2 linked regions of the Homo sapiens genome follow. The protein of the gene in region 2 purifies or fractionates together with the protein of the main gene of each other region. This does not show direct contact. Each region holds a gene or a part of one and is shown on either strand. Other genes may lie near its edges. The genes, in order: MINDY1 and GRTP1.

The links.
Region 1: the proteins of GRTP1 (region 2) and MINDY1 purify together in Homo sapiens (affinity purification with mass spectrometry; 2 studies listed by BioGRID and IntAct, with this or other methods). This does not show direct contact.

What each region holds. Positions count from the first base shown.
Region 1 is NC_000001.11:151,003,775-151,011,577, reverse strand, and holds the start of MINDY1 (ubiquitin carboxyl-terminal hydrolase MINDY-1), read left to right. Parts: upstream 1-4,675; 5' UTR 4,676-5,266; intron 5,267-5,272; exon of another isoform or gene 5,273-5,422; coding exon of another isoform or gene 5,423-5,477; intron 5,478-7,803. Other genes in the region: exopolyphosphatase PRUNE1, read right to left, coding at 2,907-2,945. UniProt on the Homo sapiens protein: Hydrolase that can specifically remove 'Lys-48'-linked conjugated ubiquitin from proteins. Has exodeubiquitinase activity and has a preference for long polyubiquitin chains. May play a regulatory role at the level of protein turnover.
Region 2 is NC_000013.11:113,346,959-113,354,223, forward strand, and holds part of GRTP1 (growth hormone-regulated TBC protein 1), read right to left. Parts: intron 5,013-7,265; exon of another isoform or gene 4,715-5,012; intron 4,016-4,714; coding exon 3,891-4,015; intron 1,294-3,890; exon of another isoform or gene 1,221-1,293; coding exon of another isoform or gene 858-1,220; intron 28-857; coding exon of another isoform or gene 1-27. Other genes in the region: MAGE-like protein 2, read right to left, coding at 1-27, 858-1,220. UniProt on the Homo sapiens protein: May act as a GTPase-activating protein for Rab family protein(s).

The sequences.
Region 1 (7,803 bases), on a different chromosome or scaffold from region 2:
AAGCCAGAGAGAGACAAACCCTCTCAGCAGAGAAAACAGGAACAATACTGATGCCAGGACTGCAAATTTCTAAGGAGAGCCAGCTCCTGATTCCTGCCTCATGCCTGAGAACTGCACACACTACATTATCCAAGGGGTCCTGGATGAACACCTAAACTGCAATGCAGCCCCACCCTGAAGCAAAGATTTCTCCCCTCAGAAGTGAAAGATGAGTCACCATAAATAGGACATTTGGTTAAATGATTTTTTTTTAATGGAACATCCTATTGTCTCTGTGGCAGAGGCTATAGAAAATTTCTGTGGTATCAAATACTAAAAATATGGTAGCAACGGGAGACTTGGCTGGATTACCAGCTGTCTTTATCCTGCACAAAGAGGAGCATTCATGATTTTCTGAAAGTTATAATTAAACTGTAGTTTAACAGAAACATTCAAACTTAAGAGTGTATCTGTCTAAATCACCTCTCTCTCTTTACACAAGAAACTTAACGGTGTCCTCTGGAGAACTGGATGGAGAGGAGAAAAGAAAAATGATCTTTATCTTTTTCATTTCATATCCCTTTGGTATTTAAATTTGTTCATGAAATACACATTTACTACTTCTATAATTTAAAGCAATCTAGGCTGGGTGTGGTGGCTCATGCCTATAATCCCAGCACTTTGGGAGACCAAGGCAGGCATATCACTTGAGGTCAGGAGTTCAAGACCAGCCTGTCCAACATGGTGACACCCTGTCTCTACTAAAAATACAAAACTTAGCCAGGCATAGTGGCGCACACTTGTAATCCCAGCTACTCAGGAGGCTGAGGCAGAAGAATCGCTTGAATTCGGGAAGTGGAGGTTGCAGTGAGCCTACTCCAGCCTGGGCGACAGAGTGAGTCTATCTCAAAAAAAAAAAAAAAAAAATTAAAGCAATTTAAATTGTTGGCATCTACCAGTATGTCTTGCCATCAGTTCCCCTGTTAACCTTCCTAGAGTCTAATTTTCTCATTTCTCCAGGCCCTGGAGAGGCTATGTGATGATGCAAGCTCTAAGACACAATCTCACCTTTCACAAGTTCACAAGTTTGAAAGGAAGATCTAGATCTTGCTCCTTGGGGGATGAATGCAGGGAGAGAAAGGTCGAGATGCCAGCAGTATTGGAAAAATCAAGTATTTTTCCAGCTTCATATTGCTGTAGAGAATATACTATTCGGGCTGGGTACAGTGGCTAACACCTGTAATTCCAACACCTTGGGAAGCCAAGCCAGGGGGATTGTTTGAGTCCAGGAGTTTGAAACCAGATTGGGCAGCATGGCGAGACCCTGTCTCTATAAAAATACAAAAAATTAGCCCTGCGTGGTGGCACTGCCTATAGTCGCAGCTTTTTCGGGAGGCTGAGGTGGGAGGATCACTTGAGCCGGGGAGGTGATCACACCATTGCACTCCAGCCAGGGCAACAGAGTGAGACCCTGGCTGAAAATAAATAAACAAATACAAAATAAAAATAGAGAATATACTACTAACCTGGGGGTCGGGGGAGGCTCTGGAGGATATATGCTGGAGAGTAGATGCATGCAAAGAAATACTATTTGGTGAGGTTTCAGGTCCAAGGGCACTTTACCAAATGGTGGAAGAGACCAGTCATTTGGGTTACTGGGGGGTAAAATCCAACTGTTTAGCACTTAGAACGGTGCCCCAAAAACTCTACATTAGTCCTCCAATAAGCGCCCTGTGGTGGACTCAGAGGTAACAAAAAGGGATTGGTTCCAAATGGCCTTATGCATTGAAATAACTCCCCAAATTTGTTTTTCACAAGGAAAATGTCTATGTAATTGGTGTTAAAATGGACCTTCTCCCCAATTCAATATGAAGACAATTCATTTATTCCAGCAGCTGAGTCTGCAGCAGGAATTAGTGACTTTCAGGATTTGTTAAAGACCAGAATCTGTCCCTCAGGGGAATTTGTAGAGTTTAAGATATCTAAAAAGGAAAGCTCAGCAAGCCATCTATCTAGGTTTCTTCAGGGCAGTATAACTCAAAGTAGAGGGGCCGGGTGACCTCCTGGAGCCTGTCTCTGGTTAGCTTTTTGCTGCTAACTGGGGATAACAGCCTAATGCCTCATGACGGCTCAGCATGGCTGGGTGAGTCCAACTGAGTCAGAGAGCACCAAAAATAAGCCACAAAGCATTGAGTAGTCATATTTATGGTTTTGATTCCAAACACACTTTGTGCTTATCCCTTCCAAGTGGAGAATTTTTATGTCATTTGTGTGCGTTAAGGCCAAAGGAGAAACCTGGAGGCAAAGGAATGCTGGTTGTGGGTCAACAAATATGCCTGATGGATTTTGTATGTTTGGCTTAAAAACACTGACTTAAAGTAAAATACTGTGACTACTTCTAACCTAGAAATGAGTTCAGCCCGCCAGACAGAAACTGCCATTCGGAGGAAATAAGGCCGTGAGCACCGGTTCCCTCCACACCCCCGAGGTTCACCTGGAGGCCAGTGGGCCAAGCGAAGCCTTGGGAGCGGAGAACTCAAAGAGGGGCGGGGAGAAAAGAATAAACACACCTCGCGGGGCTAGGCTGGCGGCGGCACAGTCCTGGTTTTTTTGATGGAACTGACCAAGATGACAGCAAGCAGAGGCTCAAATGCAGGATTCAGACCCAAGACTTCTCCCCGCTCTCAGGCGGACCCCAAAGGCGGGGAGCCAAAAACCGGGAGACTGAACAAGCAGCATTCTCACGCTCCTAAACTGGCTTCTCGCTCCTCGCTCCTCATGCCCCAAAACTGATCAGGCCCCAACCCCCCTCCCCACAACTCAGTGTTCCCTCCACACGGACCGTCGAGGCTCCCCCAGATCCCACGTCTTCGTCCTTCCTGGACCCCGTGCTCCATTCCTTACAGTCACAGACAGGGATTCGTTACCTGCAGAGCAGCTCGACAACCCTGCAGGTAGTCCTCCATGATGAAGCCCAAAGTACGCCGTCGCCCCTGGTCGAGTAGAGGTGCCCCTGGTCGAGGAGAGGTTTCCCCGACGAATGCAGCCCGCCCGGGACTCAGGGACTAGAGGCCAGAGTCAGGAGGCGGGACTCGAACCCGCCACACGGCGAATCGGCCTCCGACCCCGGGAGGAACTGCGTAAGCGGGCGCTCCGGAGTCCGGCGTCGCCCCGCCCCCAGCGGCGGAGGCGGGGCTCTACGCCCAGAGGCTCCTGGGACGTCTTTCCGGCGAGGCCAAGGGGGCGTGGCGTGGGGCGACGTGGGAAACGTAGTCCCGCAACTCCGCAATGTCCCTAGCAACCGAGGGAAGGATTGTTTTCTGAGGGATCAGTCGTTCGGTAAACAAATGTGTATGTGTCACAGTAACCCATTATTGTGGCATCTGAACTTTCCCTCTCAGATCAGGCCAAGTATAACATCTTTACATATATCACACCGAGCATCTGGTGACATTTTAAATGACACTTGGCAAAACAGATCATCTTCTTTCTACAAATTCTGCCCTTTACCAAACTGACTCAGTCGCCACCAATTTTGTGGTTGTTCATGTTAGGAGAACATTAGAATAATCTTTGACCCCTCTTGTTAACACCTACAGTCTCCTGCCAACTCCTGCTGCTTCTCCCTTTGCAACTCTGTAGCCTGTTTTTTTCTACAGCCTCGGCAAATATCTTCTTCCTTTCTTGGACGGTTGTAACCTTGGCTTTTTGCTCTCTGCCACCCTAATTGTTCCAATTGCTCTTTCAGCCTTTAGAGTTGCTTGAAATTTCATCCTGTGGCGGCCCTGTACATAGAGTTTAGGGAACCCTTCAGAATGTGGAGTTAGGTTCCAACCTCCCTTAACTGCCACTTTCCAGCCGCAGAGTAGTGCAGGTACTGCAAATAAATGGACACTCATCATCAAAAATTCCCTCATTTATTTATCTATCCCTTTATTTCCTACCGTCAGCCTCACACCAGCTTTTCCTGCTTCCCCAGCTGTAAATCGAGAGGAGGTGACTGATGAGAGGCCTGCAGTGGAACCAAGATCCAGAGCACAGGCGTGTTGGATCTCCTGCCTGCTCTGCCAGTTCTTTTCTTCTTCTTCTTCTTTTTGAGACGGAGTCTTGCTCCGTCTTCAGGCTGGAGTGCAGTGGCAGGATCTTGGCTCACTGCAACCTCCACCTCCCGGGTTCAAGCGATTCTCCTGCCTCAGCCTCCCGAGTAGCTGGGACTACAGGCATGTGCCACCATGCCCTGCTAATTTTTGTATTTTTAGTAGAGATGGGGTTTCACTATGTTGGCCAGGTTGGTCTTGATCTCTTGACCTTGTGATCCGCCCGCCTTGGCTTCCCAAAGTGCTGGGATTACAGGCGTCAGCCATCGCGCCCAGAGCCTGGGGCTTCTACCACACCCTCTGCACTCTACCAGGTGCACAACCCAACCAGTTTCATTTCTAGACTTAAAAATGATACAGCAAGGACTTGGAAAGGAGCTCTCTGGAGGGCTCCAGAGGGAAAAGAGCTGGGTTTGTTTGTTTGTTTTTAACATTAATTGAGTAATACATGCAAATATCGTGCTCTTTGCTCCTGCTTCTGTGGATCCAGAGCAAAGGACTGCCATACCCAGAGAGAGAGCCCAGATCCAACAAGCTGCTTCTGTCCAGCCCTTCTCCTCCCTACTTAGCAAGGGCACTTGCTCTTCCCTATTCTCACCAGAGAGGCACAAGCGCTCCGTCCCTTCTAGAGGCAGGCAGAGGGAAGAGAAAGGGTCTGTTGTTTTTCTCTCCTGTTTCTCGCTCCCTCTCTGCTGATCACAAAGCTGCTGACCGGGTCAGAAAGTCCTGATGGAAATCCACCAGCGCTGGGCAGGCCCCTCCTCCTCCAGGGAGCTTGTCCTTGCCTAATTTTTCTTCGTCCTGATGAGAACAAAAAAGAGAGAGAGAAGAAAAGAAAAACCACAAACTTCCTTTGAAAACCAGCTTGTAGTCAGGGCCCGGAGCGCATGCCATAGACTCGGCGACTCAGGAATCCTGAAGACTCTCTGAGCGACCTGGAGCACCTTGGCTGTGTCCCTGCCTGCCTTCACCCTCCTCCAGTGCCCCCAGTACTGGGCGTGAGTCCGGAAGTGGCCACAACCCAGCCTGGACCGTCGCTTATAAAGCTGTGTAAACCTGTATAAGCTCAGGCGTTGACAGCTGGAAGGCAGCTGGCACTGGCAGCCCCCTTCATTGCACCTATCTCCCCCATCTCATTGCCACGGCTGAACCCTCCTTCTCAATCTTGGAACAGCACCCCCTTCTTTAAGGTAAAAACTTTATTTTAATCATCTTCTTCACCTCTTCTCCCACCCTTCTCTATTTCCTCTCCAGCTTTGGGGAGCTGACACCTGCTGTCCTTCCACCTTTGGTCTGCAAGTCTGGATTGCTTAGAGGAGCTAAGTCAGGAGAGACATGTAAAGGGGATGCTGCTTGGTCCTCCTCCTTTTAATGAAAGCACGAAACCTTCCCCCTCTCCTTGTGAGCAAGTATACAGGGCACTGTGGCCATGGTTGACATATTCTGAGATGAAAATCTAAACTATTGATTGCACAAAGACATAGGTCAGACTAAGAAGGAGATTGGTGTGAGACAGTAAGGGAACTGTTCCTACAGAGAAGGAGTGTCTTCTTGAAGCTACATACCTGTTTTACGTGCTTCTTCCAACTTTCGGCTCTCTACTGCCATTGATTAGGGAGGAGCCAGGATTATTTTAACTCCCTCACTCACCACCATAATTCCAGCTGGAGAGAAAGTGTAGGATTTGACGAGCTAAGAAAGAGGAGGAAAAGAATGAAACTTTGATTTATCTGACTATCCTCTCCCTCATTCTTTCCTACTCTGAAATACTCCATGCCCTCCCCAGCAGGATTGGACGTTGTAGAGTAGAAAGCCTCCATTACATTTCCTGCCCCTGCCTCTTAAGACTTAGCCCATTTAGCTCTGCCCAGTTCCTCTGAGACCCCACTCCCTCAGGTGTCCACTCCTGGGTTCCTTTGGCTCACCTCTCCAGCCAGCTAGCTGCCCAACCCCCACTTCATCATTGATCATTTCTGGCACTGGAGAGAAAATATAAAAAATAAGGCCTGCTTTTCTTTTTTTTTTTTCTTTTTTTCTTTTTTTTTTTGGAGGCAAGAGTCTCACTCTTGTCACCCAGGCTGGAGTGCAGAGGCACAATCTTGGCTTACTGCAACCTCCACCTCCGGGGTTCAAGCAATTCTCCTGCCTCAGCCTCCTGAGTAGCTGGGATTACAGGTGCCCGCCACCGTGCCCGGCTAATTTTTGTATTTTTAGTAGAGATGGGGTTTCGCCATGTTAGCCAGGCCGATCTTGAGCTCCTGACCTCAGGTGATCCGCCCGCCTCGGCCTCTCAAAGTGCTGGGATACAGGTGTGAGGCACTGTGCCCGGCCAAGGCCTGCTTTTCTTCAAGCTTTTTCACTTTTCCAGGCTCTGGCATCTGCTTTGAGGTTCACCCTAAGTGTCATTTAAGGGGAGAAGGAAAGGAGAGAGAGAAAGAGAGAGAAAAAAAAGCATAAGGCCTGCAGGCAATTTTTGCTACTCTGATTCTAAATTAACAACACGTAAATGATATGCAGCTAGCATAAACATATGTGAATCAAGAGGATAATCAATTTGAGTGACTAGGCTTATTTTGTTTCAGTAACTTTAATGTTCCTCAACCTCATCTCCCAGGCCTTCCCCTAGCCCCAAATTCCTGTAGGTTTACAAGAAGGAAGCAGTCTCAGGCTGGGAGGAGGGTGGAGAAAAGACAAGATTTCTAACTAGTTTAATTTATTTTATTTTATTTTATTTTATTTTATTTTATTTTATTTTATTTTATTTTATTTTTGAGATGGAGTTTCGCTCTGTCACCCAGGCTGTAGTGCAGTGTCACCATCTCAGCTCACTGCAACCCCCTGCCTCCCAGGTTCAAGCAATTCTCCCACCTCAGCCTCCCGAGCAGCTGTGACTACAGGCACGTGCCAACACACCTGGCTAATTTTTGTACTTTCAATACAGACAGCGTTTTGCCATGTTAGCCAGGATGGTCTCGATCTCCTGACCTCAAGTAATCTGCCCGCCTCAGCCTCTCAAAGTGCTGGGATTACAGGCGTGAGCCACCGCGCCTGGCCCCTAACTAGTTTAATTTCTCCCTGTTTCTCTCCCTGATAAAGAGTGGGAGGGGAGCAAGGAGATTGAAGGGAGATGTTTTCCAAAGGGCAGGATTTGTGGTTTTTTATTATTTATACCCACAGTATTAGTTAAATGTCTATCTGTGCTTGCCTCAATGTGCCTCCAGTGCTGATAGAGAACAGGTTAAACAGGTCCGGTGTTCACATCTAAAATGACCTGGAGAGGACTGGGCACGGTGGCTCATGCCTGTAATCCCAGCACTTTGGGAGGCCAAGGTGGGAGGATCACCTGAGGTCGGAAGTTCAAGACCAGCCTGACCAACATGGAGAAACTCCATCTCTACTAAAAAATACAAAATTAGCTGGGCATGGTGTTGCATGCCTGTAATCCCAGCTACTCGGGAGGCTGAGGCAGGAGAATCACTTGAACCCAGGAGGCAGAGGTTGCAGTGAGCCGAGGTCGCACCATTGCACTCCAACCTAGGCAACAAGAGCAAAACTCTGTCTCAAAAAAATAAAAATAAATAAATAAAACCACTTGGATGGGAATAGACATAAAACTTTAGGTAGGTGAATGTACAGGAAGTATTGTTATGTAAATTAATAATCAGCATTTTCATATTTCATAGAAATAGCAGGCAAGAGAGTACCTCTGGGTTTAGGTAGTTTCTGG
Region 2 (7,265 bases):
TGTGGCAGAGAGCAGACCCGGGAGGACCTCTGTGGCTGAGAGCGGACCCGGGAGGACCTCTGTGGCTGAGAGCGGACCTGGGAGGACCTCTGTGGCTGAGCGGATCTGGGAGGACCTCTGTGGCAGAGAGCAGACCCGGGAGGACCTCTGTGGCAGAGAGCAGACCCGGGAGGACCTCTGTGGCAGAGAGCAGACCCGGGAGGACCTCTGTGGCAGAGAGCAGACCCAGGAGGACCTCTGTGGCCGAGAGCAGACCCAGGAGGACCTCTGTGGCTGAGAGCGGACCTGGGAGGACCTCTGTGGCTGAGAGCAGACCCGGGAGGACCTCTGTGGCTGAGCGGATCTGGGAGGACCTCTGTGGCAGAGAGCAGACCCGGGAGGACCTCTGTGGCCAAGAACAGATCCGGGAGGACCTCTGAAGCCGAGAGCAGACCCGGGAGGACCTCTGTGGCTGACAGTGGACCCGGGAGGACCTCTGTGGCTGAGAGCAGACCCAGGAGGATCTCTGTGGCCGAGAGCAGACCTGGGAGGACCTCTGTGGCCGAGAGCGGACCCAGGAGCACCTCTGTGGCTGAGCGGATCCGGGAGGACCTCTGTGGCAGAGAGCAGACCCAGGAGGACCTCTGTGGCTGAGAACAGACCCGGGAGGACCTCTGTGGCTGAGAGCGGACCTGGGAGGACCTCTGTGGCTGAGCAGATCTGGGAGGACCTCTGTGGCAGAGAGCAGACCCGGGAGGACCTCTGTGGCAGAGAGCAGACCCGGGAGGACCTCTGTGGCCAAGAACAGATCCGGGAGGACCTCTGAAGCCGAGAGCAGACCCGGGAGGACCTCTGTGGCTGAGCGGATCTGGGAGGACCTCTGTGGCAGAGAGCAGACCCGGGAGGACCTCTGTGGCCAAGAACAGATCCGGGAGGACCTCTGAAGCCGAGAGCAGACCCGGGAGGACCTCTGTGGCCAAGAACGGACCTGGGAGGACCTCTGAGGCCGAGAGCGGACCCGGGAGGACCTCTGTGGCCGAGAGCAGACCTGGGAGGACCTGTGTGGCTGAGCGGACCTGGGAGGACCTGTCTGGCCGAGTGGACCCGGGAGGATCTCCGTGGCTGAGAATGGACCCCTTTGAGTGGACAGTGCTACTGGACCTGGGAGAGGGCGACCATGTGGACAGTGTGGACACATGGAAATGCAGGTGGGTGATCATCGTGGAGAAAAAGCAGAACATAGCCAGGCACAGTGGGGGATCCCAGCACTGTGAGAGGTAGAGGCAGGAGGATCGCCTGAGCTCAGGAGTTCAAGACCAGCCTGGGCAATGTGGCAAAACCCCGATCTCTACAAAACATACAAAAATTACTCGAGCGTGGTGGCGCACCTGTGGTCCCAGCTACTCAGGAGGCCAAGGTGGGAAAATCGCTTGAGCAAAGGAGGTTGAGGCTGCAGTGAGCCGAGATCACGCCACTGCACTCCAGCCTGGGTGACAGAGCGAGACCGTGTGCACTGTGTAACTCTACACATATGCCACACATTGAACTGTGTTGCCCGCCCCAAAATTCATCTGTTGAAGTCCTAACCCCTAGTACCTCAGATTGGGACCTTGTTTGGGAAAAAGACTGTTGCAGATGTCATTACGGATGGGGTCATGGAGGAGTTGGTGGGCCCTATCCAAGCCTGGTGTCCTTGTCTTACGTGGAGCTTTAGACACAGGCATGCACAGGAGAACGCACATGGAGATGGAGGCAGAGATTGGAGTAGTGATGCCACCCGCCGAGGGGCACCCAGGACTGCCAGGAACCAGCAGAACCAGGGCAAGGCCTGGGACAGTCCGTCCGTCACAGCCTCAGAAAGAACCCGCCCCGCAGACGCCGCGACCTCACCTGCCCCGCAGATGCCGCGACCTCTGATGCACAGCTTCCAGAGCTGAGAGAGAATTCGTTTCCACTGTTTACCAGGCTGTGGCATTTCCTTAGGGGCCCACAGCAAGCTAACAGGTGCACATCTCCGCACACACATGTACGTATGTGCCTGTAGGTTCCAAAAGCCAGCTGTGCTCTGGCATTCTGTTAGTATGTAACATTGTGTTTGTGCCTTGTTTTTTAAGAATAGAGATGGGGTCTTGCTCTATTGCCCAGGCTGGTCTTGAACTCTTGGCCTCAAGCAAACAATCCTCCTGCCTTGACCTCCCAAAGTGCATGATTATAGGCAAGGGCCACCCAGGTGGGTGGTGTTTTTTTTTGTTTGTTTCTCGGTTTTTTTCAGACAGGGTCTTGCTCTGTTGCCCAGGCTGGAGTGTAGTGGTGCCAACATGGCTCACTGCAGGCTTGACCTCCCAGACCCAAACGACCCTCTCACCTCAGCCCCTCGAGCAGCCGGGACCACAGGCGTGTGCCACCACACCCCGCTAATTTTTAAAAATATTTTGTAGAGATGGAGTCTTGCCACCTTGCCCAGGCTGGTGTATGCATTTTAATAAAGCTGTTTTTAAAACACAAAGGAGCAGTAAATAGAATGATGTAGAGGATTTCTTGCCCATTCTACCTCAACTCCAGAAGGCCACGTTCTTGCTCCTGGACAGTCATAAAAGTGAGGAATGGCAGGAATTCTGTCTGCAAAGGAGGGACTCTCCCAGCTTCACCCGACACGGCACTGCCAGCCAGCTACAGAGCCACACACGCACAGCACGTGGAACAGCTGGTGAGGACAGCGTGGTCCCGTGGCTCTGCTGCTGGCCTTTCACAGGGCGCTCCTCACGCAACGTCCACCCTTTCTCCTCGGGAGCATTCACTCTGCCAGGTGCCAGGCCCAGGGCTGTCCAGGCAGGGGCTCCACACTCCTCCAAACGTTCACTCAAACTGCATTTTCTGGTTGGTGCACGCCTGGCTCCCGGCTCCTACAGGAAGTTTCTGGGGGCATCACTGGGACTGCTAGGTTCGAACCACCCATCGCGACGATGTCCTTCCCTGTCCTCCTAGAAACGTTTAAGCCAGCCACAACCCCTAGGAGCCCGTGAAGCACATGGCCTAAAATGCCAGGAACGCACTCTCCAATCCCGGTGGCAGCCGTGGGCTCCAGGCTCTCAGCCACGGGGACTCACAGGCAGTCACGGGCTGTGCGCACACCTGGAAACCCTCGTGGAGGCCAGCCCTGCCCAGATGCCTGCCCTGCCCTCGGCGAGCTCAGACAGACTGGAACAGCACCACCAGCGACAGGCCCAGGCAGGACACACAGGCTGGGAGACTGCACGGCTCCTGGTTGCCCTGCATTCCGGCCTGTTCACTCCACTAGTTACTAACAGCAATGCCCTTAATATGCGCCCAGCTAGGTGGCCTCCGGGAGGCGCAAGGACTCTCCCAACTGCAGCTGCTGGTTCACACCACGGAGCCAGCCAGGGGATGACAGTGTAGACAGCAGACACTCTGGGAGTGGCCTCAGAGGACGACACACACCTCACAGCACATGCACCCCATAGCACACACATCCCACAGCGCACGCACCCCACAGCGCACGCACCCACAGCACACATATCCCATACACACACCCCATGGTGCACATGCCTTCCAGCATACACACCCCACAGCACACACACCCCACAGCACACACACCCCACAGCACACATATCCCACAGCACACACACCCCACAGCGCACGCACCCCACAGCACTCGCCCTCTGTGTCCCGTGCTGATTCTCCTCCCGCCACCTGAGGCCGGAATGAGGTCGTCGGCTGCTGCTCCCTGTCCTCCCTGCTGGGAAATGGCGTCCGAGCCTCAATGGGGCATCAGGACGTGGAATTCATGAACAGGGTTGACAGAGACGTGAGGCCGTCACTGCCGAGCCTGCAGCTGTGGACAGACCTGTCCTCACAGCCACCTCATGGCGTCAGAGGGTCCCGAGGCTCACCTGGCAGTAGCCCACTCCCTGGTTATGGTGCCCATATGCCAGCAGCACATTGTACAGGGTCCTCTGTAAGCAGGGGTCCGTGGTCTTCCGGAACTTCACGTTGTCGGGGAAGGTCCGGTTCAGGTCTGTGGGAAATTCAGAAGGAATCACCCACGGGTTTCTGTTCCACAAGCCTCCCACCCCTCCAGCTGCCCCGAGGGTGGCCACCTGGGTTCCACTTGGGACTTACGGACTGGTTTTCACCCTGGCCGCACAGCAGACTCAACACAGCCAGAGCGACAGGCTCACTGGGCCAGGAAGGAGGGGGTGATCCTGAACTCGGGGCGGAGAGGGGCCCTAACCGTCCTTCCCGCAGAGTCAGGGACAGCAGAGCGACCCCAGAGCTGGTGGCCAGGCCATGGCACTCCCTCCTCAATGCCCGTCTCCTCCCGGCCCCCAGCACAGGCCTCCTGCACCTCGGACCTCGCGCGTAGCGGAGGCAACTCTGCCTCGAGGACCCAGGGTGACAGGTGGAGAGAAATGCACACAAAACTTTGAGGTGTTTTCCTAATTTCAAAGATCCAAAACAGAAGGAGACAGAATAAATTGAGACTCCTCAGAGATAAAGGACACGGCTGAGAGCTGAGAGCTGAGAACTGAATAAACCTCGAGTTGTCAGCTTGTGTGTGCAGGAGGCATCCCTGCCGGCCTCTTCCTTCCTCAGCACCAACCCCTCCCACTGTCCCGCCCAGGCATCTCTTGGCAGGACAGTGTGGCCTTGGCCAAGCTGTTTAGTGCTGGGGGACCCGGATACCACGTGGGTCCCTGAGACTAACCAAGCCTCACGCTGACCAAGTGCCAGGCCTCACTGAAGCTGACCTCCGCGTTAACCCTGGACACAAGCCGAGCAGGAAGGATAATGCCGGCTTGACAACTCCACTGGTTTCTGCTCCCACTGGCCCTACCTCTGTTAGAGGTGTTCGCCAGGCACCCCATGCGGTCACCAGCAGACAGCCGCTTTCTGCACAAGTTCCAAGATGGACTCACAGCAGTCCCCGCCAGCCATGACGCTGAGATGGGTGTACACCCAGCTCTGGAGGAACCCAACCGCCTGTGGTCTCTCCACAACGGCTGCAAAATACTGTAAGTCTGTTTCCGACCTCTGGCCCCAGGCCTTATCTTTGCTTACAAAAAACTAGATTTGGGCCAACATTAGTTCAATGCCTCAGAGCACATTATTTCTCATTGTGTGTTTTCTTACAAAAGAGCCTTTTTTTTTTTCTGGAATTCTAAACATTCCAAAAAATGGAATCAGTCAAGGGGAAGTTAGTATTTTTGCTATTTCAGACTAGAGTGACCAGCTGTGTTCATTTATATGTAATATTTTTATTGAGTTTTCTATATTTATATATATATTTATATATATTTATATATTTTTATATTTTTATATATATTTATATATATTTATATATATTTTATATATATTTTATATATATTTTTATATATATTTTATATATATATTTATATATATTTTATATATATATATATATTTATATATATATTTAACACAGGGTCTCACTCTGTCACCCAGGCTGGAGTGCAGAGGTGCAATCACGGCTCACTGCATCCTCGACCTCCAGGGCTCAAGCGATCCTCCCACCTCAGCTTCCTGAGTAGCTGAGACTACAGGCACACACCACCATGCCTGGGCTAATTTACGTATTGTTTTGTAAAGACAGAGTTTTGCCATGGTGGCCAGGCTGGTCTTGAACTCCTGAGCTCAACTAATCCGCCTGCCTCAGCTTCCCGAAGTGCTGGGATTACAGGCGTGAGCCACCACACTAAGTTTCTTGATATGTTTTGATAACATCCTGTGGGAAAGGAGATGGCTCCATCTCCATTGTGGAGACAGAAGAGCATGGGAGCTTTCTGTCTGCACTGCGTGGCCTGGCATTGGCTCTGTGGGACTGGACCATCCACTGCATGGCTCCTGAAAGATAACTGACCAGGTGGCTCCAATTACTAAGCACAGAACTGTCATGGATCCAGCAGCCCCACACTCTAGGTAGGAGCCCACAGCTGAAAGCAGGGACCCAGTAGAATCCACACTCTGGGTAGGAGCCCACAGCTGAAAGCAGGGACCCAGCAGAGTCCACTCTAGGTAGGAGCCCACAGCTGAAAGCAGGGACCCAGCCCCACACTCTGGGTAGGAACCCACAGCTGAAAGCAGGGACCCAGCCCCACACTCTGGGTAGGAACCCACAGCTGAAAGCAGGGACCCAGCCCCACACTCTGGGTAGGAACCCACAGCTGAAAGCAGGGACCCAGCCCCACACTCTGGGTAGGAACCCACAGCTGAAAGCAGGGGCCCAGCCCCACACTCTGGGTAGGAACCCACAGCTGAAAGCAGGGACCCAGCAGAATCCACACTCTGGGTAGGAACCCACAGCTGAAAGCAGGGACCCAGCAGAATCCACATACCCAGGCTCACGGCCATGCCACCCATAACAGCCGTGCGGCAGGAGAGCCCAGGGGTCCACTGATAGATGGATAAATGAACAAAATGTAGTCTGCCCATGCGTGGAATATTATTCACCCTTAAAGAAGGAGGAAATTGTCACACAAGATGCAGTACAGAGGATCCCTGAGGACTGAGGCGAGGGAAAGGACCCCAGCTGCAGAGGACGCAGCCCACGGGACTCCTCTTATGTGACCCTGGAGTTGCCAAAGCACGGAGACAAGCGTACAGTGGGACTGCCAGGGGCTGGGCAAGGACACGGGGGTCGGTGCTTGACAATGGGGATGGCACAGAGACAAGCGCACAGCGGGATTGCCAGGGGCTGGGTGAGGACATGGGGTTCAGTGCTTAACAATGGGGAAGCTCCCAAGAGCTTCAGCTTGGGAAAATGAAATGGTAAATTTTATATTAGGCATATTTTACCATAATTTAAAAAACAATTCAGCCAGGTGGGTGGCTCACTCCTGTAACCCTAGCACTTTGGGAGGTGAAGGAGGGCGAATCCTCAGAGCCCGGGAGTTCAAGACCAAAACCCCATCTCTGCAAAAAAATAAAAATTAAAAAATGAGCCAGGTGTGGTGGTGCACACCTGTGGTTCAGACCACTTCCAGCTACGCAGGAGGCTGAGGCAGGAGGATCGCTTGAGCCTGGTAGGTCACGGCTGAAGTGAGCTGTCACTGTGACCGCACCACTACACTCCAGTCTGGGTAACAGACTGACACCTGTCATAAAAAATAAAAAAATTCATCCAAAAAACCACAAAACAGAGACTTTAAATGCATTTTTCAGACAGCAGTGCTGTTTTAATATGCACCCCCACCCACTGCACCCAAGCTCTCCTCTTCCCACCCTGAATCAGCGTTTCTGGCCGCCAGGCT